Linked DNA regions of Homo sapiens: region 1 is linked to region 2. Evidence: fine-mapped expression QTL. A gene starts in region 2. The other region holds a variant in brackets. All regions are shown on one strand. Distances are between the middles of the regions. Region 1 overlaps ATE1 (arginyltransferase 1). Region 2 holds the start of ATE1 (arginyltransferase 1).

Evidence for each region. PIP is the estimated chance that this variant, and not a neighbour inherited with it, causes the effect.
Region 1: its variant is fine-mapped to the expression of ATE1 in whole blood (TOPMed, PIP above 0.99).

What each region holds. Positions count from the first base shown.
Region 1 is chr10:121,901,728-121,904,633 of GRCh38, forward strand. It overlaps ATE1 (arginyltransferase 1), which reads right to left. Exons shown (of 12, transcript NM_001001976.3): 6 at 664-893. Among named protein-coding and RNA genes, the nearest start is that of ATE1, 25 kb to the right of the region's middle. The variant A/C (reference allele first, on the strand shown) is at 1,441.
Region 2 is chr10:121,926,979-121,929,884 of GRCh38, forward strand. It overlaps ATE1 (arginyltransferase 1), which reads right to left and starts at 1,053. Exons shown (of 12, transcript NM_001001976.3): 1 at 866-1,053. The coding sequence starts at 971. It also overlaps the pseudogene ATE1OSP. RefSeq lists enhancers at 265-414, 953-1,819 and silencers at 725-1,144, 1,335-1,634.

The DNA.
Region 1 (2,906 bases), 25 kb before region 2:
TTACAGGTGTGAGCCACCACATCCAGCCCTTGTTTTTGAATTTTATATATGAGAAACTAATACTGAGAAATCTTGATCTGATCTAGAAACGAAAATAAATTTGGAAAAATGGAGGAATTTGGCTCTAAAAGTATTCATATTATGCCCAAAGTGGTTTTGGCACTAATGAGAGAGGATTTCAGCAGTACAATTTAGCCCTATTTAGATAATTCCTAACTGCTGGCTTATGTATATGACACCATTTGCTGTCTTTACCAAGATCAGAATATTATAATGGATGAAATAGTGATTTGCCTTGTGTAATCTATTGTCTTTCACTATCTAAACCAAAACTGCTAAAAACACAATTTTAAAGAGTATTTCTTTCATTTTAACTATTAAATTTCAATCAAGGTAGCATGCTAAAATTGACACTGTTTTCACAAGTTTGGTGGCCAACTATGTATTCTCAAAAAGTCTTTTAAAAAAAAAGGAGTTTCCCTCAAACAGCAGTTAACTTAGTAAATACAAATGTTACTTCTTCCCAGTTCTCTTTAATTTCTTTTAAATTCTCATTATTTAACTAGCAAACATCAACTAATTAGAACTTCAAATAAAAATAAACGATATGCCCAAACAAAAAAAAATCATAATAAAACAAACAACAAAAGTCCTCCAAAGTACCTCTAACTTGTGTGATGCATTCTCTGGTAAAGACTCAAAAATTAAATCTTCGAGTGATTTTGGCTGGTTGGATTTAGCCTTTGGTGGAAACAAAGATGGTGGGTGACCTTGAGCCTGGAAACCCTCAAGTTCTCCAGCTGGGTTCTGCTGCATTAGTTTTAACCTTTTCCTTTCTTTCCGGATTTCCTTTGCTTTTCGACATGGAGGCTTACTCAAATCAGCCCCTTTGCCTAAAAAGAATTTTAAAATATTAGACCAATCACATTTGGTTCTAGAAAAGTTTTTTCACATGTCTCAAAGATTCTACAGTGTAAGTCCAAAGAGTTTCAATGGTTAGGCTAGCTTTGGGGTAGATGTTTCAGAGGATCCTGATACAGAGCTGTAAGTGGATCTAAAATTCTACCTTAGAAGTGGGAGTTGCTAGAGAAAGTAAATAGCACAGAAACTTTCCAAGGTGGCTCTTACTGCTGAAAATCTTTTTTTTCTTTTTTTTGAGACAGAGTCTCGCTCTGTCACCCAGGCTGGAGTGCAATGGCATGATCTCAGCTCACTGCAACCTCCGCCTCCCAGGTTCAAGCAATTCTCCTGCCTCAACCTCCCGAGTAGCTGGGACTACAGGTGTGTGCCACCGTGCCTGGCTAATTTTTGTATTTTCAGTAGAGATGGAGTTTCACCATGTTGGCCAGACTGGTCTCAAACTCCCTTGGACAGACTGGTCTCAAACTCCTGACCTCGTGATTCACCCACCTTGGCCTCCCTAAGTGCTGGGATTACAGG[A/C]ATGAGCCACCAGGCCCGGCCCAAATATCTTTTTTTAAAAAAAAACATTCATCCACTTCTCTGCCTTTGTGAGGAAGAACACAATCAAATCAAAGTACCTGCTGCATTAAAAGGACACTGCTATCTCTGCCCAACATTTCTGAGGGACATTTCTCTGAAAGCACTGGTAACATAAATACTTAGGAACCAGGTATAAAGGAATACTGATCCCAGCGCAAACACTGACAGGTTTTTTTAAATTAAAAGAATCCTTGTGCACCTGGAATTCTAGCACTTTGGGGGGCTAAGGCGGGCAGATCACCTGAGGTTGAGAGTTCGAGACCAGCCTGGTCAACATGGTGAAACCCCATTTCTACTAAAAATACAAAAATCAGCCAGGTGTGGTAGCACACACCTGTAATCCCAGCTACTCAGGAGGCTGAGGCATTAGAATCACTTGAACCCAGGAGGCAGAGGTTGTGCTGAGCTGAGATGGCACCACTGCACTCCAGCCTGGGCGACAGAGTGAGACTCTGTCTCAAAAAACAAAAAAGGAATCCTTGCTTAGTTGAAGGTATCTGTGTCTTTCTCCAAATACTGCAGGTATTTGGGTCTCATTAGTTCAGCTGTAGTTAATCAGAGTTTTGTTCTAATTAACAGACCAAATATCAAACTGACATCCCTTTAAAATAAAAAAATTTTTACTATTATAAACTAAATAAAAATACTTAGAAAAAAACCTGGAAAGGAGACACCATGGTAACAGTCATTTTACTTTGTTTCAGAAACAGAGACAGGATTTACCTTTCTTTGTAGTGTTCTCTTTTCTCCAAATTTTCTTTTTTTTTTTTGAGACAGAGTCTCGCTCTGTCACCCAGGCTGGAGTGCAGTGGCGCCATCTGAGCTCACTGCAACCTCTGCCTACCGGACCATTCGAGCAATTCTCCTGCCTCAGCCTCCAGAGTAGCTGGGAATACAGGTGTGTGCCACCATGCCTGGCTAATTTTTTGTATTTTCAGTAGAGACGGAGTTTCACCATGCTGGTCAGGCTGGTCTTGAACTCCTGACCTCGTGATCCACCTGCCTTGGCCTCCCAAAGTGCTAGGATTACGGGCGTGAGCCACCGCACCTGGCCGAATTTTCCAACAATGAACATTATGCTAGTAATTTTTTAGAAGATATTAAAGAAATAAGGTGTTTAAGATCCCAAAACAGCCCGGTGCAGTGGCTCATGCCTGTAATCCCAGCACTTTGGGAGGCCGAGGCAGGCAGATCACGAGGTCAGGAGATTGAGACCAACCTGGCTAACACGGTGAAACCCTGTCTCTACTAAATATTAAAAAAATGAAGCAGGCATGGTGGCGCACGCCTGTAGTCCCAGCTACTTGGGAGGCTGAGGCAGGAGAATTGCTTGAACCCAGTAGGTGGAGGTTGCAGTGAGCTGAGACTGCGCCACTGCACTCCAGCCTGGGTGACAGAGCGAGACT
Region 2 (2,906 bases):
TCATTCCCCACTTACACCTTTTTCATGGAAAATGCCTGTGTGTTTTCATGCGAATCTCGTTTTCCACAAAGCTAGACTGTTCTATTAAAATAATAGAGTCTACATTCTATATTGGCAAATGCATGGCAAGAGAGGAAATAAACACGATGTTTTGTTTACCAGCAACAAATCTCCCCCAAAGAAATCTGAATCACGATGGAAAAACAAAACAAACTTGTGGGCTGGCTTTGCTGTCGTCCGGGTGGGTGGAGGAAAGACACGGCATATAAGCAAATGGTAAAAATTTCAAACAGATCAGGACAAACAGAATCCCTCGCCGGTAGCGACCGCGGTCACCAGTTTCTTGTCCTTTTTTTTTTTAACTTTTTTTTTTTTTAACCCAGAGATGCAAAGGGCTCATCCTTCCTGTACATTCGTCCAGGGAAGTCTGATTCATACATGACCGGCACCTGTGTGCACACCCACAGCTCCCTCTGCACCGCGTTTCGCCCTCGCTCCCGGGACGCTCCCACCGCAGCACCCACCGGTCAGCCCCGGCCATTAACTACGGCTCTGGGGCGTTCCCTGGCACTGCGCGCCGTCCTTCACCTCACACAATCTACCCCAGACGGGCGTCCGTCTCCCGACTCTGGGGAGACCACCACGATTTCGAGAGTACGGGCACCGGTTAGGATTTTCCTGCAGAACAGGCACCGCGAAGCTGCCCCGCTAAGCCGGCGCCGCGGCCCTCCCGAGAGTGCCCCCTCCGTCTCGGCCGTGGCACTGGGGCCAGGGGCTCCGGCCCCCTCGCGTCCTCGCTGGGGGACCCTGGGATCCCGAGACCCGGGCGCCCGGCTTCCCACGCCCGCCGGCCCGGCTCGCTCACCATTGGAGCGGCTGCCCGACTCGTTCTTGCAGTAGCCGCAGCGGTAGAAGTCCTCGCTAGGGAAATAGTCCACGACGCTGGGCGAACCCCCCGCCCAGAAAGCCATGGCCTCGGCCCCGCGAACGCTCAGCCGCCCGGCCCCGCGTCGCTAGCGCGGCCGCCGCCGCCACCCCACAATGCAGCGCGCCGCCCGGGAGCCTCCCGAGGCTCGCGCGAAGCCACTCGGGCGCCCGCAGGCCCGGCCGGCCCGGCGCCTCTTGGAGCTGACGCCGCCCGCGCCATCTTGACCGAGGGCAGCTTTCCACTATTTCCGTTCCTTCTCCATAAGGGGCCGCCGTCGTCAGTGAGGGTGAGGCGGAGAGACAGAGCGGGAAGGGAAACAGGATGGGGAGAGTCAAGAGGGGAAGGGAAGCGGGAGTCGGGGTGCGAGCCTGCCCTTTCCCCCGCCGAGGGCCTGTGCGGGGCGCGGCGGCCGCGCCAACTCCGGCGTCGGGAACACTCACCGCAGGACGCTTTGCCCTCCTTGGAATCGCAGTAGCCGCAGTGGTAGCCGGCCCTGAGGCCCTTGTATTCCACCACCGACGCCATGGCCGCCGCGAGGGTCCGCTCGGGCCGACCACGCCTCTTGGCGCCCGGGGCCGACCTCGGCGAAGCGCTGGGGCCCGCGGCGGGAGGGGTGGAGAGCGAAGCCTGGCGCGGGGACCCGTGGGCGGGGATGGTGGTCGTGTCCCCAAGCCCTGCGTTTGGGCCGGTGCTTCCCACAGCTGTGCGTTATCAGCCCCATTTCACAGGTAAGGAAACTGAGGACCGGAGGTTGTGATTATCCCAAAGTCATTCCCGGCGGGTCTCGGATTGAAAGTCAGGCCGCCCCTGGCCACCGTGTAAGTGACTTGCTGGAGCTGCTTCCAGACCAGCTGGCACGCACTCCAGTGCCCTGAATACAAGAACACAAGCAGGTATTCCGTGAATGGCGAGGGTTCGCAAATTAAAGAACTCTTAACGGCTTTTAAAGGAAACAACTGTCAGCTAGAGACAGTTGCTGTCTTGTACCACTATAAGTCCGGTGCCTCATACGATTTTTAATGAGATGCTGGAAATACAGGGTTTGTTTGTTTTTTTTAACTCTACAGTCCAAACAAAACAGTTTTACAGGCTGAATCCAGCCCATGGGCCTCCATTTTGCAACCACTATTTTAAGGAAGATTTAAGGAATAAGAGTCTAGGGCAAAATATAAAATTGAGGCTCATGCCTGTAATCCCAGCACTTTGGGAGGCCGAGGCGGGCGTATCATGAGGTCAGGAGATTGAGACCATCCTGGCTAACACGTGAAACCCCGTCTCTACTAAAAATACAAAAAATCAGCCTGGCGTGGTGGTGGGCGCCTGTAGTCCCAGCTAGTCGGGAGGCTGAGGCAGGAGAATGGTGTGAACCCGGGAGGCGGAGCTTGCAGTGAGCCGAGATCACGCCGCTGCACTCCAGCCTGTGTGACAGAGCAAGACTCCATCTCAAAAAAATTTTTTAAAAAATGAGTTCCAGGGGCGGGCGCGGTGGCTCACGCCTGTAATCCCAGCACTTTGGGAGGCCGAGGCGGGTGGATCACGAGGTCAGGAGATAAGAGACCATCCTGGCTAACATGGTGAAACCCCTTCTCTACTAAAAAATACAAAAAATTAGCGGGACGTGGTGGCACGCGCCTGTAGTCCCAGCTACTCGGGAGGCTGAGGCAGGAGAATGGCGTGAACCCGGGAGGCAGAGCTTGCAGTGAGCAGAGATCGCGTCACTGCACTCCAGCCTGGGCGAAAGAGCGAGACTCCATCTCAAAAAAAAAAAAAAAGAGTTCCAACAAGGTAATATGCCTTATCTTTCCCTCTGCGTGCACAGATAATTTAAGCCTGTCTGTCCTCATAGTTTTCCCAGTCAACAATAAAGCTGATGATACAATATTGTTTTAAGTGTGTTTAAAAAAGTGAAATGAAACTCAGAGAAATAGAAATAAATTTTTGAGGTGAGTTTTGACATTCTTGACCCCAAGGGCCTGTG